Homo sapiens: one gene and its partners. The protein of the gene in region 4 interacts with the protein of the main gene of each other region in a pairwise test. Each region holds a gene or a part of one and is shown on either strand. Other genes may lie near its edges.

Region 1 (7,023 bases), on a different chromosome or scaffold from region 4:
GGCCTAATGCGTCCAGGTGGGGTCAGAGCAGGTTCTCATCCTGGCCTGGACTCCTGGGACCCCAGGCTGGCCCCAAGCCCATCTCTCAGAGCCAGAGGTGGCTGCGGGAGGGAGGGCAGCTGCCCAGGGATCAGGCTGGATTGTGTATAATCCGCGATTAGAGAGCGTGGGTGGGGAGGAGACGGGGCCTGAGGCGGGCCGTGGGCACCTGCCCTATTTACACAGCTGGTGGGTGCCTTCTGGAGAAAGGAGGTGGAAAGGAGGCAGAAAGCTGGCCACCTGCCACCTGGGCCCAGGTGCCCCCAGGGCAGTACCCAGACTCTTCCTTTCCCTGAGTTCCGGAACATCTCACCCACCCCTTTCCCAGCCCTGCCCAGCCCCTCCCAGGAGGGCCACACGAATCTCCATCCTGCCCTGCTCACAGCTCCTTCCTGCAGCCCCCTCCTCCCCAGCCAAGCTCAGGGAAGACTCTGGAAGGGCAGGTCTGTGCTGTGGCCCCTGAAGGTGAGCCTGGACACCGAGCCCCGAGCTGGCCACTCCACACCCACCCTGGGCCCTGTCCTCAGAGGACTCACCCCAGATACTGCACAGACCTTGAGGGCAGGCTGCAGTCCTGGGCTGGGGTCATGCCAACCTGATGGGGTGACCTTCCAGGCAGGCTCCTTTGGGCACACCCCTCCACTTCTGCAAGGGCAGCAAGCCCCTTAAAATCAGATGAGCTGCTGTAGAAGTGGCAGGTGTCGGGGGTTCTGACCACTCCCAGAGGCTCTGCGGTGCACCCACCCCAGCTGCACGGCGGCCCCTCCCCATGCCTCCCTCCTTGAGTTCTGGTCGCCCAGGCACCCCGACCCTATCAGCATCAAGAACCTGGCCTCTCCCCTCAGCTGCTTGCCTCTGATCCCCTCAGTCAACCCCTGCTGGGGGTCCTCAGCCGACCACAGAAGCTCTGGGGGTGAGTACCCCTCCAGGGGCTGCCCCCTGCTCTCTCGGGCACCCAGGGTGGATCCAGTGCCCCTTTGAGCCTGCAGCCTGCATCCCCCTCCTCGAGCCGCTGCTCCTGTGGGTTCACTCTCCCCACACCCTTCTGCCCTGGCCGCCTGCAGCAGCCCCCAGGCCCAGCCTGCAGAGGGGACGGTGGCAAGCAGACCCCACCTGTCCCTCAAGTACTTACCTAGCCACTGCCCTGCCATGCCGAGCCCGTGGCCCAGCAGCCTCTTCTCTAAGAGTATCTCCACACCACCCCCAGTCTGGTGTCTCCCCACAGGTGGGGGTGGCAGCAGCCCTGGGATGTCATCCATCCCTGTAAGTGATACTGCGGGTAGTCGGCAGACAGACCGGGAGGTGGCCCAGCCTGGCTCCTCCCTGGCCGGGGAGGCTGCCCAGCCTGTGCTTCCTGTCCCGCCCGCTCTGTTTCAGCCTGGCCCCAGCTGCCCCCCAGATCCGCGCCTCCCGATCCCCACCTGCTCCCTGCTGTCTGGACTTGGACAGCTCTAATGCTAGAGCGTCTCAGGCCGGGACTGACACTTTTCTGTCCCGGCCCAGCAGGTCCACCTTGACCCAAGCCAGCAGCTCCTGGCGTGCTAGCCCTTGCCACACGCGCAGACCCTTTGCCACCCATTCCCCTCCCATCAGGAGAAAGCTGTGGACCTCAGGGTTGCGAATGCTGGGGTCGGCAACAAACCTGCTCTTTCGGACGCTCTTCCTATACACATATGTCATACACACTTCATAACCATAACCTCCATTTTCTGAGACCCAGTGGCACCTTCATGTGCTTCAAAGCAATTCCCTGGGACCCAGCAGAGGGATCCTGTGCCCCGCCCTCCTCCGCAAGAATGGCCCTTCCCAGAGCACCACTGCCAGGCTCGCACGCCCCGAGCCCCTCCGGGCAGCCGCTGCCACGGCCACTCAAGGTGCTACTTACATGGGGTGGGCAGGGGGCCAGGGATAGTCGGAGATGGGCAGGGCGGGGGCCCCACTGGCGAGGGGCCCTCGGCTTCTGGGGTCCCTGAGCCCCTCCTCACAGAGTTCAGGATGTCAGAGATCCTGGGGGCTGGGGCGGAACAGACGAGACGTGAACACAAGGCAGGCACGGGGGGCACGCAGGAGAGAAACCATGGGCAGACAGCCAAGCCAGAGATTGAGGGGCACAGAGGCAGATGTGGGGGATGGGGCACAAGGGGACAGAGGGGAGGAAGGGAGAATGGGGGGGTGTGGGGGGAAGATGGTGGACCTGGGCCGACAGAGGGGATATAGGGGAAAGAAGGGGATGTGGGGGATGGAGGGGAGCTTGGGGGACAGAGAGGGAAACGGGAAATGGAGGAGACGTGGGAGACAGAAGGGAACGTGGGGGACAGAGGGGCATGTGGGGGGACAAAGTGGGGGTGTAGGGGATGGGGGGCATGAGGGGACCAAGGTGGGTGTGGGGGACAGAGGGGGGTGTGGAAGACAGAGGGGGTGTGGGGGACAGAAGGGGTCATGGGGGATGGGGGTGCGTGAGGGGACCAAGGTGGATGTGGGGGACAGAGGGAGTGTGGAGGACAGAGGGGGATGTGGGGGACAGAGAGAGGTGCAGGGGACAGAGGAGGGTGCAGGGGACAGAGGAGGGTGCAGGGGACAGAGGGGGATGTGGGGGACAGAGGGGAAGTGGAAGACAGAGGGGGTGTGGGGGACAGAAGGCGGTGTGGGGAACAGAGGGGGAGGTGGGGGACAGAGGAGAGTATGGGGGACAGAGGGGGTGTGGGGGACAGAAGGGGGTGTGGAAGACAGGAGGTGTGGGGGACAGACGGAGTGTGGGGGACAGAGGGAGAGTCTGGGGGACAGAGGGGGTGTGGGGGACAGGAGGGGGTGTGGAAGACAGAGGAAGTGTGGGGGACAGAAGGGGGTATGGGGGGCAGGGGGTGGAGGACAGAGGAGGGTGTGGGGGACAGAGGGGGATATGGGGGACAGAGGGAGTGTAGGGGACAGAGGAGGGTCTGGGGGGCAGAGGGAGAGTGTGGGGGACAGGGGGTGTGGGGGACAGAGGGAGTGTGGGGGACAGAGGAGGGTCTGGAGGACAGAGGGAGAGTGTAGGGAACAGAGGGGGTGTGGGGGACAGAAAAGGGCGTGAAGGGACCAAGGTGGGTGTGGGGGACAGAGGGGTATATGGGGGACAGAGGAGGGTGTGGGGGACAGAGGGAGAGTCTGGGGGACAGAGGAGGGTGTGGGGGACAGAGGGAGAATGTGAGGGGCAGAGCAGAGTTTGGGGAGGAAAATGGAAATGAGGGAAAGAGGGGAATTTGGGGGACAGAGGGGGATGTAGGGATAGAGCGTGGACTTAGGGGGACGTGGAGAGGTTGTAGGCTGACCGAGGGGGATATGGGGGGACGGAGGGAGACAGGGGGACAGAGGGTGCTGCTGCGGACAGCGTGGTGCGTGGAGAGGAGGCTGCAGGAGTGAAGGGCAGATGCTCTGGCTGTCGGGTGGCGTGGGCTGAAGCTGCTGGGGGCAGAGGGCACCCTCCAGGGAGAGGCTGCTGGCCAGCAAGAAGCTGTCAGGTAAGTGGCCCTTGAGGAACGCTGGACGGGGTTACAGGGAGAGGAGGGAGTCACGGGCGTTACAGAGGAGGCCTGGCCTGGCCCCATGAGGACAGCCCAGGTCAGCAGAGGCCAGGCTTATGATTCTCCGTACTATCCCCTTGTTGGTGAGCTCCAGAGACCCTGGTCGGGGTTCCAGTTTTGGCACCTTCCTCAGCCTCCTAGACTGAGGGAGGGTGCTCAGGGGTTGGGGCCACATCAGGAACCAGGGTGGCCCTGAGTGCAGCTCCTGGGCACCATGGGCAGGGCCCCTGGGTGGGTGTGAAGTCTGTGGGGCTGGGACAGTGATCAGCAGAGAGGGCCTAGGGGCATGGGGGGCCTCGGAGGGGCCAGGGCTGCCCAGGGCTGGGACAGACATTTTGGAGAGGGGCCTGGGGCTGGACAGCGAGCGGGGAGTGGCAGTGGGAGCAGGAGCCGTGGAGGGGTCTGGGCCCCTTAGGGAGAAGCCAGGAGCTGCCCTGCTGGTTAGCATGGGAGCCCACAGGAAGCCCCGCCAGGGCAGGACTCCAGGCTGCGGCGCCGGGGCAGGGTAGCTGGGCCGTGCATGCAGGTGGGAAGCTGCTGAGCGCCGGCCATTCGCAGGGAGCTGTCCGGCAGCAGAGGCGGCAGGCCTGGGGGCCACTACTTACACGGGGAGGACAGGGGGCCTAGGAGAGCCGGAGACAGGCAGGGCGGGGGCCCCGCTGAGAGGGGGCCCTCGGCTTCTGGGGTTCCTGAACCCCTTCTCACAGAGTTCAGGATGTCAGAGATCCTGGGGGCTGGGGTGGAACAGATGAGACGTGAACATGAGGCAGACAGACACACGAGGCGGCGGCAAGGCGGAGGAGGCCAGTGGGAGGGGTCCCGTGTTCTAGACCCCTTGGGCCCTGGGATCAGGCCCTGAATCAGAGCCTGCCTCAATAGCAGGGAGCCCCCCCGCCCGCAAGCTGAGGTGGAGTGAGGCCTGCACCGACCCTGAAGACTGGAATTGAGGCCCGAGCCTCCAGGGCCTCCCATCCTGCCCAGTGGCCTTGAGCAGGAAAGTGGTCCAGGGCCCTCCTCACAAAGAGGTGGGGCTCGATGGGCTGGGGCCACCCTGGAAAGCCCCAGTGAGGGATTGTGGGGTGATGAGGCTGGAGCCAGGGTCCACGCTCAGCCTGCCCTCGGCTCTGGAGTGGCCCCTCTAGGGGGTTGCCAGCCCTCCAACATGACCCCCACAGCAGCAGGACCCAGGCTACTTACATGGGGCTGGCAGGGGGCTAAAGGGAGCCGGAGATGGGCAGGGCAGGGGCCCCTCGGCTTCTGGGGCTCCCGAGCCCCTCCTCACTGAGCTCAGGATGTCGGGGACCCTGGGGGCTGAGGCGGAACAGGTGAGGCAGGCAGGTGGGTGGTGCGCCCGCAGGAAAAGAAGGCAACTGGAGAAGGACAGGGGGAGGCCAGGAGGGAGGGAGGGGGTGACAGCTGGATACCTGGGGCTCCTGGGGTGGAGGTGGGGTGGCCACCTGTGGGGGTCCTGGGCCTGTGGTGGCCGCAGCAGGTATGTGAAGGCTGAAGGAGCCAACACGGGACCGGTGCCAGAGCCAGAGCCAGCAGAGGCCAGGGCAGCACAGGCCAGTGCAGGCTGGCGCAGAGTCAGAGGCCACCCTGCCACCCTAGTGCTGTGACCACCCCTGGCCAGAGCCAGCAGAGGCCAGGCGCACGGAGAGGGAGTGACAGTCATCGTAGGGGCATGATGGCCACTGAGCCTGCCTGGACTCTGTACCAGCCTCAGGGCAGGCTGGCAAGGCTTCTTTCTGCACGGGGTGGGGTGGGGGGTGTCTGCCTCCACCTCGAGAGGCTGCTCGGGCTCAGATCTGAGCCACAGCTGCTGGCTTCTGGCTGTCTTCTCTTCTCCCCTGCAGGATCCAGGCTGGGCCCCCCTCCCAGGTCCCCTCCCTCACTGCTCAGCACCCCACTCGGCTGAGGGTGATGGAGAACCTCTGGACAGCCTTCATGCTGTTGCCTTTGGGGCCTGTTCCAGACTGCAGGGGAATCACACAAACACCCACTCTCCGGCATCCAGGGCCCAAAGTCCTGTGCTCATCTCTGCTCAGGGACAGTGTCATAGCTGGGTAGGCCGGGCAGGAGCAAGGCTATGCTTTGGACAGGTGAGAAGTTTTCTCCCCTAAACTGGCAGAGTGGCTGACCCTTTTTGGGCACCAGGGTAGCCCTGAGAACAGCATAAGGCTTATTAGGTGACCGTGTGAGCGATGAGGGTCAGGAGGCCCCATGTGGGTGGTCTGGAGGCGGCAGAATCCATGGAGCATGCCCCAGTGCCTGGTGCCCTGGGGGCCTCTTGGGGAACACACAAGACATTGGCCTGGGTGAGCAAGGGAGGGGGCCCTGGAATCTGTGGTGCAGAAACCCACCGCAGCAGGACACTCCTGGCTAAGCAAAGGCAAACACGGAAACACTCACCCAGCTGCCCGGCCACTTGGCAAGTGCATGCTGGACAGAAACGCAAGCTTAAGGAGCTTTAAGACAAGGACAGCATCTTGGAACAAATTCTACCCATGGGCCTGTTTCCCCGTGAGGGTCCTGGTGTGGAGAACCTGCCTCCATGCAAAGCCGTGGCTTCCTCACTTGGATGCGGTGACCGAGACTGCCCAGCTGTCGGTCATCTCTGCCATGCTTCTCCGCTCTGGGCAGGCCTGACACCCAGGCTTGGAGCAGGATTACAGCTACAGGGTCCCTGAGCCCCTCAACACATGCATAAACTAGGCGTCGCAGGAGAGTTGACCCTGCCCAAGTCCCACCCACCTCAAAGAGCAACCCAGCAATGCCAAGGCCGCTGGGGGGGCAAGGACTCAAGTGCAGGTACCTTTAGCGTCTTCATCCTCTATGGTGGTATTGGCACTGTCAGAAGACTCCTGAGGAAACACGGGAGGCAGCGGGTCAGGATGCGGCCAAGGATAGGTGGGACGTGGCTGAGGGCAGGTGGACAGGGCTGGGCCTGTGTCAGGACCAGCCCAGGCTCTGAAGCTGATCTCTGCCTCGGCTGCTTCCACGGGGCTTAAAGGCCAGGGGCTCAGGGGACATGCCCTCTGGCGGCTGCAGGGCCCCAGCTCTGTGGACCTCATGCGGCAGTGACCGGAGAAGACACCCAGTTCTGTGCTGGTCCCTGGGAGGGCGCCCCTCACCAGGGTGCATTCTCACGGCAGCCAGCACAGGCTGGCACGGAGTCCGAGGCCGGCCCTGCCACCCTAGTGCTGTGGCCACCCTGCATCCCCAACACATGAGGGCTCCACTTCTCCCAGCAAGATGAGCCTGGCAGAGAGACTGGTATGCTCAGCTGACTCTTTAACAAGAGAGGAAAATGGGCTTTTTGAAATTCCAAGACGTAAAACACAATGGGACTGGCTGGTTCCAATGAAGCAGCAGCCGGTGTCATCCAAAATACAGGGTGAGGCGTTCCCAGGAGCTCTGCAGA
Region 2 (7,023 bases), on a different chromosome or scaffold from region 4:
GCAAGAACAATTAAAAATGTACAACTATTTAAATAGAAAAAAAAGTCAAAATAACAAATGTACTCACCATCTTTAGTTTCCAGCTTAATAAATTCTTCCTCTGATATTACCAAAGGAAGCATGGTGGTAGTAGACTGCTGTAGCCATGAATAAAATACAGTTTTTATGTCTTCTTCACTTATGTCTTTAGGCTGCCAGAAAAAGGAATAGTAATGAATTATCCTCATATCTGAACTTAACTTTAACACCCTTATTTTAACATCTGATCTTCCTAATAAAGTGTAAGCCTGACCAAACAAATCCAATGAAGGATGTTCATGTTCTATAGGCACAGGTCTGGGATTTGACATTACAGTTAGCACAATGAGTGCAGTGTAGCCTGAAGAAACATCTGTTAGGCGGAAAAGTTTTAAATGCTCCTTTTCTCTATGCCCAGTGATACATCTACCATAATGTGGCTCACTCAATAACCATTCCAACCCCATTCTCCCTTTCCTCCCTCTACGATAAAGACAGGAAAACAAATTCCTTTTTCTTTGAGACAGAATCTCGCTGTATCGCCCAGGCTGGAGTGCAGTGGCGCAGTCTCCACTCACTGCAACCTCTGCCTCCCGGGTTCAAGCGATTCGCTTGCCTCAGGCTCCCAAGTAGCTGGGATTATAGACATTGCAGCTAATTTTTGTATTTTTGGTAGACATGGGGTTTCACCATGTTGGCCAGGCTGGTCTCAAACTCCTGGCCTCAGGTGATCCGCCTGCCTTGGCCTTCCAAAGTGCTGGGATTACTGGCATGAGCCACCACGTCTGGCCTAATAATCTATTTAAAAAAATTTTTTTTGAGATATTGCCTAGGCTGGAGTGCAGTGGCACAATCATAGCTCACTGCAGTGTGGAACTCCTGGGCTCAAGAGATCCTCCCACTTCAGTCAGCCTCCTGAGTAGCTAGGACTACAGGCATGTGCCACCACATGTGTCTAATTTTTATTTTTACTTTTTTTGAAATAGAGTCTCGCTCTGTTACCCAGGCTGGAGTGCAGTGGTGAGATCTAGGCTCACTGCAACTTCCACCTCCTCAGTTCAAGTGGTTCTCCTGCCTCAGCCTCCTGAGTAGCTGAGATTACAGGATTAGCACCACGCCCCGATAATTTTGGTATTTTTAGTAGAGATGGGGTTTCACCATGTTGGCCAGGCTGGTCTCCAACTCCTGACCTCAAGTGATCCACCCATCTCAGCCTCCCGAAGTGTTGGGATAACAGGCGTGAGCTACCACGCCTGGCTTAATTTTTTTTTTAATTTTTTTGTAGAGATGGGGTCTTGCTATGTTGCCCAGGCTATTCTCAAACTCTTGGCCTCAAGCAATCCTCCCACCTCAGCTTCCCAAAGTGCTAGGATTACAGGTGTGAGCCACTGGACCCCACCTGCAAAGATCTTTAAGTTCAATATCTCATTTCCTGACTCTACCAGTATCCAAAGAATTAACTGAGTAAAAAGTAAAACAGTCTAGCACTCTTTTAGGCTACAATATTAATACTGAAACAACATGGGACAATTTTTTTTAATTACAACCACGTGGCAAAATGATCAATCTCTTAAAAGCCAAAAATATTCATATTTGCATTGGCAAATATAAGTATTTGTGTTATCATTTATTAAAGATTTCTCAGCTTCTCAAAAAGTTAAACATAATTCCTAGGTATATCCCAAAGGAGCTGAAAAGAGGAACTCAAACAGATACTTGTACACCAATGTTCACTGTAGCATTATTCACAGCAGCCAAAAATGTGGAAACAACCCAAGTGTCCATCAACAGATGAATGGATAAACAAATGTGGTATATGCAGTCAATGGAATAGTATTCAGCCATGAAAAGGAATAACATTCTGATACATACAACACAGATGAGCCTTGAAAACATTATGTTAAATGAAATAAGTCAGATACATAAGACAAATGCATACTTCTACTTATATATGAAATATCTAGAATAAGTAAATTCATAGAGACACAATATACATTAGAGATTACCAGGGACTGGGGAAAGGAGTGGACGGGGAATTATTGTTTAATGGGTACCAAGTTTCTCTTTGGGGTGATGGAAAAGTTCTGGATATAGATAGTGGTGATGGTTGTACAATATTATGAATGTAATTAATGCCTTTGAATTATACACTTAAAAATGGCGAACATGGCATATTTTATGTTATATATAGTTTAACACAATAAAAAAAGATTTGTATCAAAAAGGAATACAACATTCTTATTACTTAGCTAAAGCAACTAGAAATCTTACAAAACGTGTAAAAGAATTTTGATGTAACATATATATTTGAACTCACTAAATTCTCTCTAGGTTGTAACTTTAGAGATCTTGGAATTTTAGGGGTAACTTCCACTGGAGTTATCCTGACTACGGCATGCATTTCTATATTTAGTCTCTTCCTCAGGTCATCTGGAATCTGAAATTTAAAAATAAACAAAAATATAAATATATTCAAAGCTTGGTTAAGAAATATTTCATAGCATAAATATTGATATATTAGCTTCTATGAATTTAGGTGAAATAACAGAAGCTATCATAATAACTCATAGTTGTCTCAGTCCATGCAGGCTGCTATATCAAAATATCCTAAACTGGGTGGCTAACAAACGACAGAAACTTATTTCTCACAGTTCTCTTTTATAAGAGCACGAATCCCATTCATGAAGGCTTCACCTTCATGACCTAATCACTTCCCAAAGACCACACCTCCTAATACGATCACCTTGGGAGTTGGGATTTCGACATATGAATTTGAGGAGGACAAAACATTCAAATACCAACGGTGTGACCAGATGGATGTTCAGATATTGTTATACCATGAACATTTCAATCCTCTCCCTACATTTCTTTCCTTTTCTTTACATAATCTTCAGAATTAGAGCTTTAAATGTATGTATTTGACTGTATTCACCAAACCCATCTTTTAAACTATGGCACATTTACATTCAAATTAAATGTTATTTCTAATCTTTGAGCAGCCTTTATTTGTGAAAGTTAACAACCAATGAAGAAGCTGGAATGGCCAAAACTAATCACAGACAATCTGCCTGATTGTCTGATTAAATGATTAGATCCAGACAGAAACTTAATCTAAAAAGCAGAGTAAAATTTCTCCCACCCCCTAATGAAAATGTTCTAAACTTAGATTGTGGTGATGGCTGTACAACTAGTATAAATATACTAAAAATGACTGAATTGTACACTTTAAATTTTACCTCAGCCGGGCGCAGTGGCTCACGCCTGTAATCCCAGCACTTTGGGAGGCCGAGGTGGGCGGATCACAAGGTCAGGAGTTTGAGACCAGCGTGGCCAATATGGTGAAACCTCGTCTCTACTAAAACTACAAAAATTAGCCAGGCGTGGTGGTGGGAGCCTGTATCCTAGCTACTCGGGAGGCTGAGGCAAGAGAATCGCTTGAACCTGGGAGGCAGAGCTTGCATTGAGTGGAGATCGCCACCACACTCCGGCCTGGGCGACAGAGTGAGACTCCGTCTCAAGAAAAAAAAAAAAATTATCTATATATATATATATATATATATATATATATATATATATATATATATATATATATCAATAATGATGTTAAAAATTTTTCTCAACTTCCCAAATATAAGTAAGCACTGAAAGACATAAAGACGACTTTACTCTCTATTAACTTCTAAAGAGCAGGTGCAGACATATTAATGGTAGACAAAAGCATAAATAAAAACTCTAAGGTACATATTCTGACTTAAAGAGAATTTAACAATCAAGTTTCCTGTTTGTTTGTTGTTTTTTTTTAATCACCATGCTTCACAGGGTAATAAAGGTTCAAGTTAACATGAATTTGTTAGTTGTATCACCAAGTGATCAATTTTGATCTCTCAAGCCAAGTCCATTTTAGTACCTGATTTCACCTACTGTGACTTCTCATTGTCCATGGCTCTTCAACCTTCAGTGGAGTGGGAAGGGCGGAGTCCTTATTGCTATCTTAATCACAGGACTTTACCATCAGCACTTCTCCCTGTTCTCACCATATAATTTCAAGGAAATAAAAGGATATTCCCATCTAATGACAGAACCAGCTAAATCATAAGCTCAGTGTTAGATATTTTGAATTTGAGGATGCAGTGGGATCTCCTGAACGGACAGTTTAAAGCTAACAGAAAATAATGATCTGAGGCCAGGCACAGTGGCTCACGCCTGTAATCCCAGCACCTTGGGAGACTGAGGCAGGCGGATCACTTGAGACCAGGAGTTCAAGACTAGCCTGGCCAACATGGTGAAACCTCGTCCCTACTAAAAATACAAAAATTAGCCAGGAGTGGTGGCGCACACTTGTAGTCCCAGCTACTCTGAAGGCTGAGGCAGGAGAATCATTTGAACCTGGGAGGTGGAGGTTGTAGTGAGTGGAGGTGGTGCCACTGCACTCCAGCCTGGGCAACAAAGCAAGCTTCTAACTCAAAAAAAGAAAAGAAAAGAGAAGAGAAGAGAAGAGAAGAGAAGAGAAGAGAAGAGAAGAGAAAAAAGAAAAGAAAAGAAAAGAAAAGAAAAGAAAAGAAAAGAAAAGAAAAGAAAAGAATGGTCTGGAGCTTTAGAAAATGATGTAGGCCGGCCAGGAGCAGTGGCTCATGCCTGTAATCCCAGCACTTTGGGAGGCCGAGGCAGGCAGATCACCTGAGGTCAGGAGTTCCAGACCAGGCTGGCTAACATGGTGAAACCCAGTTTCTACTAAAAATACAAAAAATTAGCCAGGCGTGGTGGTGCATGCCTGTAGTCCCAGCTACTCAGGAGGCTGAGGCAGGAGAACCACTTGAACGTGGGAGGCGGAGGTTGCAGTGAGCCAGATCATGCCACTGCACTCCAGCTTGGGCAAGAAGAGTGAAACTCCATCTTGTGGAAAAAAAAAATAGAAAAGAAAATGATGTAGGCCAAAGAGATTAATGCTTTGTCAGTTATTTGTATAAAGGTCACAGGTAAAACTGTTGGAGAAAAAAAAAAAATCTACAAAAGGAGACAACCTTCTCTTTCTATTTTATTCTCTTTCCTAACAAGTTCCTCTCTTTATCACTATGAAGTCTTACTTTACAGTGGTTCAAATTTAGGTTCCAATAAATGGACTAGTGACTTATGTCATATAAAGGTAGCATTAATATTTGTGGCCAGGATGAGGGGCTGGAGCACTAGTTGCCCTGTCTACTTCCTCTCCGTTATACACAAATTAAAGAGCAGACACCGGCAGGGTAAGCAGCTCCTGGATGCATTCCAATCCAGGTGCCACCACATGCAGCAGGAAGGTTACCTCATGCCATGGATCTCTCCCTACACTGGCCCTTTTCCCTAATATTAACAAGTTGCTTTCGGTAACTGGGGAACAAATCTGCAAGCATTAAAGATGGGAGGCTTTGTAGGGCACTCCATCCTGATGAACCCCCAAGTCAATCTGCCTGGGTTTGAATCCTAGTTGTAACACTAGCTATGCAATCTCAGGCAAGTAATTTTGACCTCTCTGGCCTGAACCTATCTAAGCTTGTACCTATTCAAGCTTACTTGGCCAGAAAACATACAATCTTTATCCAAACAAGGACTTTACTGCAAAGCGTAAATGTGTCCCCCAAGTGCCTTTAGGCACTGTGTTTCTTTTTAATTGATTTTCAATTTATATATGAAATACTATTCTAATTCATAATTTGGGGATGTTTAAGCCACATAAAATTTCTCCCAAGTTATAAAATTTATACTAACCCAGACTTTCCCAAGATGGAGAACTTCTACATTTTTGGTATATTTGATGGCATTGTTCAATTCTTCAAGTCCATTCCAGACTACTTGTAGCACACAGGCCTTCTCATCTTCTTCATTATGATCTGACCTAATTTTTTTTTGATCTAGTGGCTCTGACATCTGCTTCTCTTTTTCAGGTGATAACACATTTTGTTTTGTTTTACTTTGCTGTTGCTTTGGAGAAAGTAGCTTAACTAGCTTTCCATATGTCACAGTAAAGCTGGGCTCTACATCAAAATATTCCTGGTCCCATGGAAATACATGAATGGCACAGTGTTTATGAAAAACAGAGGTTGCTGACGCGTTATATATACTAGGAGGTTGAGATTTGCATACTCTGAAAATATTGTCTAGAGGAACAACCTTTGACTGCATATTTTTGAATGCATTGATTTCAGTTAAACCCCAAGATGTCTCTTGTTTCTTCTCAGATTGAAAGGAAAAAATGCTTCCTATCATAGTCCATAAACTTGCTACTGATGATGAGTCAACTGGAATCTCTGACTCGTTTTCATTAGATTCAGTGATTCCCACAGTATTTGACTGAAGTTGCTTGGTTTGAAGTTCTTTCATCATTCCTTTCTGGTCTCTTCCATAACTATGAAGTTTTTTATATTCAGCATCAGCTTTTGAAAATGTATTCTCTTTGGCTCGGCGTGTCTTTGGCTGAATAAGGAGTTTGGTGTCAGTTTCCAGCCTTCCATAAGAGGCAGCTGGTATTAGTGCAACTGTGTAGAAAATAAAGCTCATTAGTGCACATTCATTTCTACTTTGGACTCAATGCTATAGTGTAGAATATGACAGCAAATATTACAATAGCACCTACCAATTTGGATAAATATGTACGTTTGTTGATCAACCCAAACAGGAAAAATGGCTTTTGGAAAAACTATTCGAATTTGATCTAGAAGATGTTGTTCAAGGGAAACAGCATGCAGCTCCTAGAACCAACAGACGAAAAGATCAATTCACTTTACATTTTGTCCACTCCATATCTAGTTAAAAAAAATCTCAATTCTTTTTTTAAAAAACAAATTTTAATGTGCATATTTAATATACACGACATGGTGTTATGAGCTACATATAGATAGTATAATGGTTACTATAGTGAAGTAAATTAACATATACATCATCTCACAGTTACCCACTTTTGTGTTTTTGTGGTAAGAGTAGTTAAAATCTACTCATTTAACATGAATCCCCAATACAATTTTATTACCT
Region 3 (7,639 bases), on a different chromosome or scaffold from region 4:
ACTAAAGTACAAAAATTAGCCAGGCGTGGTGACATGAATCTGTAATCCCAGCTACTCGGGAGGCTGAGGCAGGAGAATCACCAGAACTCAGGAGGCGGAGATTGCAGTGAGCCAAGATTGGGCCATTGTACTCCAGCCTGGGCGACAGAGCGAAACTCCATCTCAAAAATAAAATAAAAAGAAAAGAAAAGAAATAGATAACATAAAATTCTTACGATTATTTGCTTGAAGTGAATAAAGAATGTTTTCTGTATTACTCTTCTATGAATTACAGTAGTCAATACCATTCAATCTCAACTGTTATCACTATTGAAATGGCCTCAAAAATAAACTGCCCTTTCAAAAATCAAGCAGATGGAAAAGGAAAAATCCATATTGATTTCAAAAGTACAGCTGCCCTCATCTGAAAACTACTTCATCTTAAATTTCCTAATATGATCATGGCTGGCTGCGATTCACCACAGCTTCCAACAGCCGACTGGAGAGCGTTTTTCCAGAATAACTAGTATGTTTGCTTCAAGACAAATTATTTGACAAGGTTAAGGAAAAGATGTGAAAGCTAGATAATCCATTAAGAATCTTTTTTTAAAACTTCAAGGCATTTTATTTATACTTCTTTTTTTTTTTTTTGAGACAGTCTCGCTCTGTCGCCCAGGCTAGTGTGCAGTGGTGCAATCTCAGCTCACTGCAACCTCCGCCTCCCGGGTTCAAGCTGTTTTCTGCCTCAGCTTCCCAAGTAGCTGGGATTACAAGCACCCACCGCCATGCCCAGCTAATTTTTGTATTTTTAGTAGAGACGGGGTTTCACCATCTTGGCCAGGCTGGTCGTGAACTCCTGACCTTGTGATCCACCCACCTCGGCCTCCCAAAGTGCTGGAATTACAGGCGTGAGCCACCATGCCTGGCTATACTTCTTAGCTTACTTTTTTATTACGCGTATATATTAAGAACTTTTAAAAGTCCAAATTAAAGAAGCATGCCTAGACATCATTAAAATAGCTATCAATGCCCATGACAATCCTGTAGCTCAAATAGTTTACTTTAGAATGTCAAAATTGATTTTGTAATAGTCAGGACAGGATAAACAGTCGCTATATTAAGACCATGTACGTGTCCCTAGACCTAGTTCTTTCCCTACGTCTGTTTTTATAAATGCTGGTGATAAACCAGGTCTGATTAATATATAATCATTTTGTGTGATTATGTAACGGCTATAATTCTAGGTTATCTTTGGTCAACCTTAAGAAAAATGGCAGTATATGTAATGACTTTTGCAAATGATCAGTGCTAATTTGCAGACTTTTGTTTAAAGAGGGTTTAAACAAAATAAGAAAATTTCATGATTACCAGTTGCTATTAAATGAATTGTAACTTTTTTTAAAAAAAAAGAATGTCCAAGCCAGGTGTGGTGCTCATGCCTGTAATCCCAGCACTTTGGGAAGCCAAGAAGGGCAGATCACTTAAGGTCAGGAGTTCAAGACCAGCCTGGCCAACATGGTGAAACCCCGTCTCTAGTAAAAATACAAAAAGTTGCTGGACGTGGTGGCACACACCTGTAATCCCAGCTACTCGGGAGGGTGAGGCAGGAGAATCGCTTGAACCCAGGAGGCAGAGGTTGCAGTGAGCCAAGATCTTGACACTGCACTCCAGCCTGGGCAACAGAGCGCAACTCCATCTCAGAAAAAAAAAATGGTATATCCAGATTCACATTTTTTTTCAAACTCTGCATTTTTCTTTCTTTCTTTTATTTTTTAATGTTTTTGAGACAAAGCCTCACTCTGTCACACAGGCTAGAGTGCAGTGCCACAATCTCAGCTCATTTCTCAGCTCATTGAAGCCTCGACCTCCTGGGCTCAAGCAATCTTCCCACCTCAGCCTCAGCAATAGGTGGGACCACAAACATGGGCCACCACGCCCAGTTAAATTTTTTTTTTTTTTTTTTGAGACGGAGTCTTGCTCTGTCGCCCAGTCTGGAGTGCAGTGGTGCGATCTCGGCTCACTGCAAGCTCCGCCTCCCGGTTTCATGCCATTCTCCTTCCTCAGCCCCCCAAGTAGCTGGGGCTACAGGCGCCCCCCCCACCATGCCTGGCTAATTTTTTTTGTATTTTTAGTAGAGATGGGGTTTCACCGTGTTAGCCAGGATGGTCTGGATCTCCTGACCTTGGAGACCGCCTTGGCCTCCCAAAGTGCTGGGATTACAGGCATGAGCCACCATACCCGGCATAATTTTTGTATTTTTTATAGAGGTGGGTTTTTGCCATGTTGCCCAGGCTTGTCCCGAACCCCTGCCCTCAAGCGATCCCCCTACCTCGGCCTCCCAAAGTGCTCAGACTACAGACGTAAGCCTCCGCACACCTTTTGGACTGGTGTGCCAGTTCACACATGCCTGTGATAGCAACTGCGTTCTGAACTGCAGGGATACATTTACTTGTCAGCACCTGAAAACTTCCTCCTGAGTTGAGTCCAATTATCAGCTTCATGTGCCATCTGCCAATCCAGATGAAACTTGGCAAATACAAAGCTGTCCTTTTCCAGGTGACACTCCCCACCTTCTTTTTCCTCCACCATTTCATTAACAACTAAAAAGCTCCTGCATGATCAGACCTGTGTATCTATCCATCATCAAATCCCACTCCTTTTTCGAGACTGGGACCCTCTGGAGGCTGACCCAGCCACGCATTTGCTAGCATGCCCTGCAGACATGACCCTCGCTGGGCTCTGATCAGCCTTCAGGCCTCCACTCCAGGTGTCACTGTTCTGTCTCCCCTCTGCTCTCACAGCCTTCTCTGCTAGATGTCTCAGCCGTGCTGGCCCTCTCTATTTCAGAAGTGAATGTACTGAGAGGGTCTTAGGGACTTATTAATAATGCTCCTGGGGTCGGATGTAGTAGCTCATGCCTGTGATCCCAATACTTTGAGATCACTTGAGCCCAAGCGTTTGAGACCAGCCTGGGCAACAAGGTGAGGCCCCATCTCTATCAAAAATTCAAAAAAGTAGCCAAGCATGGTGGTGCACGCCTGTGATCCCAGCTCCTCGGGAGACTGGGGTGGGAGGATGGCTTAAGCTCAGGTCAAGACTGAAGTGAGACATGAGGCCACCACTGCACTCCAGCCTGGGCAACAGAGCAGGACTCTGTCTCAAAAAAAACAAAACCCACTATAACCATAATACTATTATCACACTTAAGAAATTCATAATTCCTTAATATCATCACATATCCAATTGATATCTGAGTTCAATTATTTCATGTCAATGTTTTTAAACTATTTCAATCAGAATCTAAATGAGGTCAACACGTTGCAATTGGTTGGTATGTCTTTTAAACTCCTTTTAATCTACAGGTTTCTCTTTTTTTGCCTTGAGTTTCATTTATTAGAGAACCCAGACATTGTCCCATATAGTCTCCCAGAGTTGGATCTTGCTAGTTTCATCCCCACGGCCTAGTTTAACACATTCCTCTGTCCTTTCTATTTTCTTTTTTTTTTCTTGAGAGGGAGTCTCCGTCTGTCCCCCAGGCTGGAGTGCAGTGGCTCCGTCTCAGCTCACTGCAACCTCTGCCTCCCAGTTCGAGCGATTCCCCTGCCTCAGCCTCCTGAGTAGCTGGGATTACAGGCGCCTGCCACTACGCCCAGCTAATTTTTTTATATTTTTAGTAGAGACGGGGGTTTCACCATCCTGATCAGGCTGGTCTCGAACTCCCGACCTCAGGTGATGGACCCGCCTCTGCCTCACAGAGTGCAAGGATTACAGACGTGAGCCACCGCACCCGGCCAAATGTCCTTTCTATTTTCTATAAATTAACAGTCAGATCTAGGGGCTCGATCAGATTTGTGTGTGTGTGTGTGCCGTGTGCGCGTGCACAGCATGTTCTTTGACTAGGAGGCACACCTGCTTTGGTTATCTTCTTTTTGTAATCTTTAAGTTGCTCTTTGATGTAGACGTGGTAACTAATGTTGAAACAAAATTAGTTTCGTTTCAAAACCTTTCTTTCAGGAAGAGGTTGTGGTTGATTACTTCTGCGACAGGTAGATGCAAGGTTGAGCAATCATCTCTTAACAGAAGTGGTCACACTAGAATAATTCAAGCACAACAACAAATCCCACATCATCACCCCCTCTTAATAATGGTGTTTTCTTTTTACTTGATTAGCTTTTAATTGTCACGCACTCTGCATTTTTTCCCTGAGGTATTATTTCCAGAAGGCAGCGAAATATGACTCAATGGCTAATTTGCTTTTTAAAAATTAAACAAAACTTAGGCCAGCTGCCATTTAAGAAGGGCTCCGGGGCCTCCAGACTCGGTGTGACCGTAGCCGTGCCCGGTGCTCCCCTCGCGGAGGCGTTAGGGCGGCAGGTTTATCTCACTTGAGACCATTCCTTCCTTTTTCATCTTCTCCGGGCTCCGGCGCAGCAGGCCGCAGGGGCGGGCACTCGCAAGAACGCGGCATCCTGGATGGTGGCCGAGTCACCGAAGCTCAGAACCCCGCGTCCCAGAATCGCTGAGAGCCGGCCCCGCACGGGGGCCTGGGAGCGCCACGCGCCCTCCACCCAGAGAGGCAGGCGGGCGGGCCGGGGGGGGCGGGGCCTCGGGACTCCGCCCACGCCTCCGTCTCCTCCGCGCTCCGCCACAGCCGGCCGACACCACACCAGCCGGGGAGCCGCCGCCGCCGCCGCCACCTCTGAGCAGCCGGCTGGGAGCGAGAGCCGACAGCTAGTCTGCAAGCCACCGCTGTCGCCATGGGGAGCCGCGTCTCGCGGGAAGACTTCGAGTGGGTCTACACCGACCAGCCGCACGCCGACCGGCGCCGGGAGATCCTGGGTGAGGGCCAGCGGGCGCCCCGTTATGTGCGTGCGTGGCCTCCCGGCGCCGGGGCGCGCTCTCCCCTCGCGGGCCCTGCGCGGTCGTGGGCGCCGGAGGCCCGTTAGCAGCCTGCTCCCCGTCGCGTCCCGTCGCCGCTCGGGCCGCCAGCCCGCGGGTCAGCGCGGGAGAGGCTGGGCGAGGAGCGGGGGGAGGGACGGGTCCTCGGAGCCGCGCAGCTCCGACCCTTCCGCGAAGAGGCGCAGGCGCGTCCCCGAGCGCGGGAGTCCCCGCCAGGCCCACGCCGGCCGGTTGGGGCGAAGGGTGTCCCCGGCTGTGCCAGCCTTGAGTAGATCTTTTCGCTAGAAGATTCCTGTGCCCTCAGGTGGGCGCCCTTTCCTCTCACCACTCCCTCTCCTCCGGAGCGGGCCGAGGTGAGCGGGTGCCGGCCTTGGGGCTGCCTGAGTGCTAGGCAGGGTGTGGTCCTGGGCATCCTTGGGCCTACCAGCGAGCCCTGCTCAGGGTGTCGGGCGCCGGCGGGCAGTACTGGCGGGGGCGGCCGCAGTCCCGGCCTTGGGCCCGTTAAGGGGGCCGGCGTCCCTCCATATGCCCCCCGGGGCTTCTCGGACTTGATGGGCCCTGGTCGGTTCACGCCGCTTGTCCCATTGATCCTCACGACAAGCCTGGGACGTAAGAACGGCGGATTCGTAGGCATTTTTCATCCATCTCGGTTTTGTGGATGAAAAGACTGAAAATGGAAGACTTGCCAAATAAGGAAAATATGTGGCGTGGCCTGCTGGTCCCCTGACAGCTAATTGAGAGGCCTTAACTCTCCAGAGGATTCGGGCCTTCTGTGTTACATAGAGAATGCTCATCTCTCCCAGGCTACTCCTAATATGCTAGGGATTGTGTGGAATGCTTTACAAACATTACCCAATTTCATCCTCTTGGTAATTCTACTTGGTTGGTATTATCGCTGTTTTAAAAAATGAAATAAGAACGCGTGACTAAATGCTAGGGGGATTCTAATGCGCATTCGGTTGCCTCTTCCAGAGCACGTGTTTGTTTTTTGTTTGTTTGTTTTTTGAGACTGCACGTGTTTGTTTTTTGTTTGTTTGTTTGTTTGTTTTTTGAGACTGAGTCTCACTCTGTTGCTCATGCTGGAGTGCAGTGGCGCGATCTCCACTCGCTGCAACCTCTGCCTCCTGGGTTCAAGCGATTCTTCTGTCTCAGCCTCCCGAGTAGCTGGGATTACAGGTTCCCACCACTACGCCTGGCTAATGTTTGTATCTTTTTTAGTTAGAGACGGGGTTTCACCATGTTGGCCAGGCTTATCTCGAACTCCTGACCTCAGGTGATCCGCCCGCCTTGGCCTCCCGAAGTTTTGGGATTACAGGCGTGAACCACCGTGCCCGGCCAGAGCACGAGCTTTTTAACCTCTGTTGAGGAAACGGGGACCGGTCACGGTAGCTCAGGCCTGTAATCCTAGCACTTCGGGAGGCTGAGGCGGGAGGATCGCTTCAGCCCAGAAGTTTGAGACCATCCTGAGTAACATAGTGAGAGCCCCCCGTTTACACACACACACACACACACACACACACACACACACTTTTTTTAAATTGAGGAAACGGTGAGTTGAACATGAGCAATTATTCCTTATATATAGTATTTCCTTAGTTTTTCTTCTCAACATTCATTTGCCCAGTGAAAAGAAAAAGCAAGTAGCTGGGACCACAAGCGCACACCACCATGCCTGGTTGATTTTTCTATTTTTTGTAGAGATGGGTTTCTCCGTGTTGCCCAGGCTGGTCTTGAACTCCTGGGCTCAAGCAATCTGTCCGCTTTGGCCTCCCAAAGTGCTGGGATTTTAAAGGCGTAAGCCACTGCACCCGGTAACTTTGGGTTCTTGAATTCCCTTCCTCCTCTTCTTCCTCCTCCCCTACACTCCATTAGAGAAAGGGTCTTGCTTTGTTGCCCAAGCTGGAGTGCGGTGGTTGTTCACAGGCATGATGATCACTGCAGCCTGGGCTCCAGTGGTCCGCATACCTCAGCCTGCCAGTAGCAATTTGTTTGGCACATCACTTACACATACTTGATATGAGATAGCATGATACTTTTTTGAGACGGAGCCGCACTCTGTCACCCAGGCTGGAGTGCAGTGGCCCAGTCTCGGCTCACTGCAACCTCTCCCTCCTGGGTTCAAGCAGTTCTGCCTGCCCCAGTCTCCCGAGTACCTGGGATTACAGACGCCCGCCACCATACCTGGCTAAGTTTTTCTATTTTTATTTTTAGTAGAGACAGGGTTTTGCCACATTGGCCAGGCTGGTCTCAGATGATGCGCCTGCCATGGCCTCCCAAAGTCCTGGGATTACAGGCGTGAGCCACCCTGCCAGGCCACATATGATATATTTTATCAATGCCTTATCTACATGTTACATAGGAATAATCTAGCGTCCTACCTGTGTAAAAACCAACTCTGGAATACTGAAACTGAGCTACTTAATATTCTGAAAATCAGGACGGGTGTGGTGGCTTTTTTTTGCCTGTAATCCGAGCACTTTGAGAAGCTGAGGCAAGAAGATCGCTTGAGGCCAGTTCAGAACAGCCCCATCTGCACGAGAAATTAAAAAATTAGCTAGGCGTGCATGCCTGTCCCGCTACTCAGAAGGCTGAGGCGAGAGGAACACTTGAACTCAGGAGTTCGAGGCCAACCTGGGCAACATGGCAAAACCCCATCTCTACCAAAAAAAAAAAAATTTAATTAGCGGGACATGGTGGCATGTGCCTGTGGTCCCAGCTACACAGAAGGCTGAGGTGGGAGGATTGCTTGAGCTGGGGAGGT
Region 4 (6,636 bases):
AAGGGAGAGGGGAGTGATTCTCAGACCAAGTCCTGGCTGACAAGCTTTCTCTGGTCTTAGCTATACATCTCCTTCCCCCCACGTCCCTCTTTGTGCAGAAATAAAATCCATGTCCCTTGAGCCAGCTGGTGGGGGGTGCTGAGAACCTTGGGGAAGGGCAGGAAGGCTGATATTAATGAGTATTTTCTAATCTTAGTTTAAAAAGGGGGGATGGTGGGGAAATGAGAGGCAGGAAATGAAAATCTAGAAACCCCTGTAAGAATTCTTGAACTGTTGTCATTTTCTTGTCATGCCCTAACACCATGATCAATGAATAGTGTGAACCTTACTAAAGAGGCCTGTGTGCCTGCCAAGGAGTCAGGATGGAAGCGGAGGATCCCAATTTCCTCTGCAAATAGTTGTATTGGGGAGCAGAGCCAATCCTGGAGGCAGATATCACCTTCTGTATAGGCTCAGGAGCCTGTCCCCTGGTGATCAGGGGTGGGCGCATCTAGATGAAGCAGACTAGTCATAGCTGTGGGGAAAAAGGGTGTTTATTAACCAACGGCAGGGGGAGGAGCTGAGCCCAGGCTCCCCACTCTGTCACATGCCTGTTCCACCCACCTGGTTGTAAGTGGGGGCATTCCTAAAGAAGTGTAGCCATTCTCACAATAAATACATTCATTGTGGGGTGGAGGTGGGAGAGGTTGGGTGAAGGGCAGTAAAAACCCGTGGGATTCCACGTTCTCAGCTACAAAAATAACAGTCATCCTCACCCGAGGGGAATGGGGGAGCTCAGTCAGAATTGATTGTCCCATATAGGCCTAGAGACTTCAGAGGCCCCTGGCCCCTGAAAGTGCCCCGGTGAGGTAGGACAGGGGTAGGAGCTAAGCGTCCAAACTCCCAGCCTCTGCCCTTTGCATAGTTCCAAGAATGGGCTTCATGTGCCAGTTGAGACATCAGATTTCTCCTCCCTTTCCCTGCTGTAGTCTAGAGGAAGCAAATGCTTGATTCCCCCAAAAGAGAGGCTGGCTCATTGAGTGCAGTGTTGGTCATCCATCCTAGGCAAGGGCCTGTGAGGACAGTTAAATGGGAGGGGGATCTCCCTCTGAAATGTCCACGGACTAAACCCAACAGACAGGTCCAAGACAGCAAGGGAGGCTCAGAGGTGCATGTGAGTGGAAATGTAAGCACATGTGTGATACAGGTGTGTGTTACCACATGTGCATGGGGATGGGACATGCCTGGAGCTCTGTCTCTCATACTCTTGAGAATGACCAAGGAGAGTGGGGAGGCTGATTCACAAGGGCCACACAGGAAGGGAGAGGAGGGGAGTGATGCAGTCTTACCTCCCCAGGCTGGCCCGTTCCCAAGCTCTTGACAAAGAGGTCACCACATGGGGCTGGGGAAGAGGACCAGATAGGATGTGGCAATTGGGAGGGTACCCCAAGTCCAGAAGCAGGGATGAAACAAGAATGCACCAGGAGAAGGTGAGGGTGGGGGCACTGCAGCCCAGCCGATAAACATTCTTCCATGTGTGCATGTGAATGTACGCAGGGCTTAGGTGGCTGGCAGAGGTCTTGTCTGGTTTCAGGACCATCCAGCACACAGGGCCATGCAGAGGGTGGTGACATTGAGCCCATATGGACCTGCAGAGCCCTGCCTGGGAGAAAGAGAAAGGGTTTGGGCAGATGAATGGAACAGGAGGATGGAGTCCTCACCTATAAGTGTTTAGGTTAGGGGATAGGAACTGGCTCTGGGTCTGCAGGGCACCTGATCCTGAGGGAGCACCTACCTCTGAGGAGCACCGATGGGCCTGGGCTGCTCACATGTGGGTCTGTGGAGACTGAGGAGGGGGCTTTGGCTGGGCCTGACTGGCCAGCCCTACAGGGACATCAAAAAGTTGGGAGAAGGGTATGGAGTGGGGGTAATGAAGGGAGGGTGGCTGTGTTAGGGAGGCAGTGGCCCAGCCTGGGACAGATAGGCTGGCTTGGAAGAGCATTTGTTCTGGGAGGCTGGGCTCAGACAGAGCTCTCATCTAGCTGCTCCACGAGCTGCGTGTGCTTCCTTTTTTCCAGGATGCGGCTGAGTTCCTCGGCGAAGGAGCAGGGCCCTGCTGGTACTCCATTGTTGCTCTGCCTCAGAAGCACATAGCTATTGCCATTCATCCTCCGCAGCCGGCTGGGCAGTGCCACCAAGCCATTGGTCAGCTCAGCCGGTGGCGGTGGGGGCGGTGGGGGTGGTGGGGCTGGGGCTCCCTCCCCAGGGATGATCTGGAGACAGCTGCCCTCCAGGCCCCCAGCCCCCTCATCATCACCCTCATCTTCCTCTCCAGGACACTGGCCTGAGACTGTCTGCAGTTGCACCGCAGATCCTCCTGCCCGGCTGGCCCGACCCAGTGAGTATTTCCGTCGGCGCCCTCGTCTGCCTTCCCGCAGACAGGCCACATAGAGGAGGGAGGAGGCCAGGATGAGGCAGAGGCCACCAAGCGCGGCAATGGCTAGCACATAGAGCAGTCTCACATCAGGTGCCAGCTGTGCCCCAGGTGTGGCAGGGGCTTTTGGAGCTGGGGCAGGAGTGGCTGGCCGGACTGTGAGACTATAGGAGGCCAGCAGGGTGCGGAGGCCATTTTCCTCGGCATAGCAGCCATAGTTGCCACTGTGCTCAGGCTGTGCATCTGTAACCAGCAGCCCGTCCACGCCCACACGGTAGCCACCCTGCCCATCGCTCAGGCCCATGCTCCCATTGAGTAGCCACAAGGCCCGGGCCAGGTTGGATGGCTGGTCACAGGGCAGGAGGACATCATCACCCCGGAGCACAGAGCGGGTCTTCAGTGGTGGTGGTGGCCCTGTGGGGTTTGGGGGAGAGGTCAGTACCAGCCCGTCCCAGGAAGGGATTAGAGATGGCAAGCCAGACTGTTCACTGCCAAGTCCCTGGCACCAAGCACAGAACCCAGAATCACAGTGACAGCTGACCCAGGCTCTGTGCTCATGCTTCCACAGAAGGTTCACGTTGGCCCTTCCCAGGAAGCAGGCAGTGCCTTGGGCCCTTTTCCATTCTCTCTCCATGCTCTCATCCTCTCCTGTGGTTTCAATTTCTGCCATCTGCCAGTAACTCCTAATCTCTACCTCAGACTTCTCTCCTGAGTGCCAGACTCGGATATCTACCATGTGCTGGGCATCTCCACATGAGGTCTCTTGGACACCTCAAAACCAAAGCTTTTCTCCCCAACGACACCAAGTCCTTTCCTTGAATCGCCACCACTGTGAATGGCACCACCAGCCACACAGTTGCTTAAGTCAGAAACCTGGGAGTCTCCCTTCTCTTTCTTGCTCGCCTTTTTGTTTTGTTTTGTTTTTTTGAGACGGAGTCTCATTCTGTCGCCTAGGCTGGAGTGCAGTGACGTGATCTCAGCTCACTGCAACCTCCACCTCCCTGGTTCACGCGATTATCTTGCCTCTGGCTCCTGAGTAGCTGGGATTACAGGCATATGCCACCATGCCCAGCTAGTTTTTGTATTTTTAGTAGAGACAGGGTTTCACCATGTTGGCCAGGCTTGTCTCGAACTCCTGACCTCAAGTGATCCACTCGCCTTGGCCTCCCAAAGTGCTGGATTATAGGCATGAGCCACCGTGCCCGGCCCTTCTTCACGTTTGTATCTAACTGTCACTAAGATTCTGTTTCTGGCATCTATCTTAGACCTGTTGATTTCTCTCCTTCCATGACTCCTGGCCCACTCTGGCCCCATGTAATCCATTCTTCATGAGAGGTATTTTAAAAACACAAATCTGATCATGCCACTCTCCAGCCTAAAACTCTTCAGAGGTTTCCTATTGCTTTTCGGATAAAGACCAAAATCTTCAACATGGCCTTTGCCCACTTGTCCAGCCTATTCTCCTGTCACTCAAATGTGCCAGCCTCCCTCTGCCTGCTGCTCCCTCTGCTTGCATGTCACCCCATTACCCCATGTCCTCTGCTTGCCTGGCTAACTTGTGGGAGATAGCATAGTATAGTGACCAGAAGCACAAAGTCAAATCAGACTGCTTGGGGTCAGGTTTGAATTCTTTTTTCTTTCTTTTTTTTTTTTTTTGAGATGAGATGAGGTCTCACTCTGTTATCCAGGCTGGAGTGCAATGGTGTGATCTTGGCTCACTGCAACCTCTGCCTCCCAGGCTCAAGTGATCCTCCCACCTCAGCTTTCCAAGTAGCTGGGATTACAGACATGTGCCACCACACCCGGCTAATTTTTGTATTTTTTGTAGAGATGGGGTTTTGCCATGTTGCCCAGGCTGGTCTCCAATTCCTGAGCTCAAGCAATCCACCTACCTCAGCCTCCCGAAGTGCTGGGATTACAGGCGTGAGCCACTGTACTCAGCCAGGTTTGAATTCTGGTCCAGTTTCTTAATAGCTGAATAAGTTTGAGCAATTTACTTACACTCCCTGGGCTTCAGAGAGGTCCCTCATGGGGATAATAATAATGGCACCTTTCTCATAAGAATGCTGTGACAGTAGATGACATCATGCATAGAAGTATTTAGATCAGTGTCTGGCACACAGTAAATACTTAATACATCTTAGCTGTGATGATTAACTTTTGTTCTTTCTTCAGATATCAGTTCAGTCATCCGATCTTCCTTGGGGAAATACCCATTACCGTCCTGAACCCTTGTCATCCACTACTTGGCTATAAGCTCCAGAAGTGACAAGACACTTCACATCTTAAATATGTTTCCTAGTTTATAATTCATTTGGGCAGTAAATGTTTGTTGAGCACTTACTCTGTGCCAGGCTCTGTGTTTGAGTCATCCTTACCAAATGTACATAGCCACAGCCACTCAGATACAAACATATACGTACACATGGCAGTAAATGGCAAAGAGGACAGTCTGCGTAGCTAGACCCACACTCATATGAGTCACTTACCTGTATCCCTGCTGCTCTCACAGCCTCGATTTCCTCTCTCTATGTCCTGTATCAGTGCTGTCCTGGGACAGAAGATCAGGTTTTATGAACAAGGGGAACTGGGTTTCAGTTTCCCAGTGAAAGGGTAGATAGGTCTGTTACTAATAACTAGCCCCTGCACTCCCCCAGTAGCTATCAGGCCTTCCTCCTCCACTCAGACCACATGTGACTGTCACCCCCCACCACTTCCCACCTGCTTCCCTGGGACCTGTTGGCTATGGTGGTGGCTGCTGCGCAGGCATGGGTGCCAGGGTCCCAGCCACAGTAGGGGTCTCGGGCCAAGATGCAGTCATAGCAGGATCGGTAGCGGGAGCAGCTGGAGAGTGGTAGCTGGATGACTCCGCTAGGAGCCCCCACATAGAGGCTGTGCTGGGAGCCAGATAGGACAGTTGGTCGGCAGCGTCCCCACTCATACAGATACACAGCCTCTGCCCAACCTCCCCACTCCCTCTTCCTATTTCAGCAAGGCTATATTAAGGGTCACAGAGAAGGGCTACCTGCAATAGAGAGATGACTAGATTTTCCACAGACTGGGACTCCCTGAACACTTGTGTCTCTTCAATAATGTGCATCCCAGAGCCCAGGACTACGGCCTTGTGGATCCAGCCATCAGCTGGTATGGAAAGAGCAGAGAGTTAGACCCCAACTATGGGATCTGCTCTCAGCACCCTGCAAGAGGCCTAATACGAACAGCTCAGGAGTCCTGAGGTCCAGAACAAGGACTCAGCCAGGAGCAGTGGACCCTCAGGACACTGGGAACTCCAGACTAGTCATGGCAGGAATTAATGGATTCAGAAGCATTAGTGATCAGGGCCAACAGGGATCAGGGATTGGGATCAGAAGCACCTGTGCCCAGAAAGAGCAGGTCATAGGTAGGTCCAGCAGGCGTGGTGACAGGTGTCCCTGTAAGGTGTGTGTAGCGTATGTTGCGCTTGAGCAGCAGGGGCCGTCCACGTGTGGGCACAACGGGCCGAGCCATCAGTGGGTGCAACTTTACAAAGTCCAGGACCAGGGATGGCAAGTCTTGGGATGAATTGTAGCCTTGGCTGCGCAATGAATCTGTGATACACTGGCGTGGGGGACGAAGGTGGTGAACCTCGGGACTCCACCACCTGCCTGCCCTCTCCACAAGGCCAGACCCTTTGACCCTTCCCTGGGCTCTGTCTACTCAGCACTGGCCCCAGGCCTGGGCACTCACCGAGCCAGGCCGGGGCTCAGGCACCCCACCCTCATAGCGACCCCAGCGCCGGGAACCATCCTGGTATTCCATATAGGGTCCTGCAAAGACAGCCTGGATCTCTGCCAGGTCATAGCGGCAGATGGCTGAGGCCTCCAGGGTCTTCCTAGAATGGGACATAGGGCAAGGGGGGTGAGTTACATGGAGTCAAGCCTGCCCCCCAACTCGTGCTCAGCCTGAAGCTCACTGTTACCCTGGCCAACCCCAGCTATAGTCCCACAGGGCCTCTCCTGTGAGTCAGTGGACCACTGCATTCATTCTCTGGCTCTAGCCTAGCTTGATGTGCTTAAAATTCTCACTTTGCCAGCACTTTGAGAGGCCGAGGCGAGCAGATCACGAGGTCAAGAGATCGAGACCATCCTGGGCAACACAGTGAAACCCCATCTCTATTAAAAATACAAAAATTAGCCAGGCGTGGTGGCACACGCCTATAGTCCCAGCTACTCGGGAGGCCGAGG

What was found.
Region 1: the proteins of SEMA4G (region 4) and CAMK2B interact in binary tests that used the Homo sapiens proteins (3 or more experiments, as listed by UniProt).
Region 2: the proteins of SEMA4G (region 4) and PEX1 interact in binary tests that used the Homo sapiens proteins (3 or more experiments, as listed by UniProt).
Region 3: the proteins of SEMA4G (region 4) and DEGS1 interact in binary tests that used the Homo sapiens proteins (3 or more experiments, as listed by UniProt).

Annotation. Positions count from the first base shown.
Region 1 is NC_000007.14:44,224,592-44,231,614, forward strand, and holds part of CAMK2B (calcium/calmodulin-dependent protein kinase type II subunit beta), read right to left. Parts: intron 6,464-7,023; coding exon 6,415-6,463; intron 4,911-6,414; coding exon 4,797-4,910; intron 4,334-4,796; coding exon 4,205-4,333; intron 2,054-4,204; coding exon 1,925-2,053; intron 1,301-1,924; coding exon of another isoform or gene 1,172-1,300; intron 723-1,171; coding exon of another isoform or gene 625-722; exon of another isoform or gene 594-624; intron 1-593. UniProt on the Homo sapiens protein: Calcium/calmodulin-dependent protein kinase that functions autonomously after Ca(2+)/calmodulin-binding and autophosphorylation, and is involved in dendritic spine and synapse formation, neuronal plasticity and regulation of sarcoplasmic reticulum Ca(2+) transport in skeletal muscle.
Region 2 is NC_000007.14:92,511,513-92,518,535, forward strand, and holds part of PEX1 (peroxisomal ATPase PEX1), read right to left. Parts: intron 6,744-7,023; coding exon 6,629-6,743; intron 6,531-6,628; coding exon 5,764-6,530; intron 2,456-5,763; coding exon 2,336-2,455; intron 192-2,335; coding exon 68-191; intron 1-67. UniProt on the Homo sapiens protein: Component of the PEX1-PEX6 AAA ATPase complex, a protein dislocase complex that mediates the ATP-dependent extraction of the PEX5 receptor from peroxisomal membranes, an essential step for PEX5 recycling.
Region 3 is NC_000001.11:224,178,601-224,186,239, forward strand, and holds the start of DEGS1 (sphingolipid delta(4)-desaturase DES1), read left to right. Parts: upstream 1-4,639; 5' UTR 4,640-4,736; coding exon 4,737-4,818; intron 4,819-5,079; exon of another isoform or gene 5,080-5,231; intron 5,232-7,639. UniProt on the Homo sapiens protein: Has sphingolipid-delta-4-desaturase activity. Converts D-erythro-sphinganine to D-erythro-sphingosine (E-sphing-4-enine). Catalyzes the equilibrium isomerization of retinols.
Region 4 is NC_000010.11:100,979,496-100,986,131, reverse strand, and holds the end of SEMA4G (semaphorin-4G isoform 1 precursor), read right to left. Parts: intron 6,285-6,636; coding exon 6,140-6,284; intron 6,011-6,139; coding exon 5,788-6,010; intron 5,555-5,787; coding exon 5,439-5,554; intron 5,311-5,438; coding exon 5,135-5,310; intron 4,965-5,134; coding exon 4,903-4,964; intron 4,757-4,902; exon of another isoform or gene 4,670-4,756; coding exon of another isoform or gene 4,589-4,669; intron 2,828-4,588; coding exon 2,001-2,827; 3' UTR 1,643-2,000; coding exon of another isoform or gene 1,239-1,642; 3' UTR 516-1,238; downstream 1-515. Other genes in the region: MRPL43 (large ribosomal subunit protein mL43), read left to right, coding at 2,058-2,184, 2,315-2,377. UniProt on the Homo sapiens protein: Cell surface receptor for PLXNB2. May play a role in axon guidance.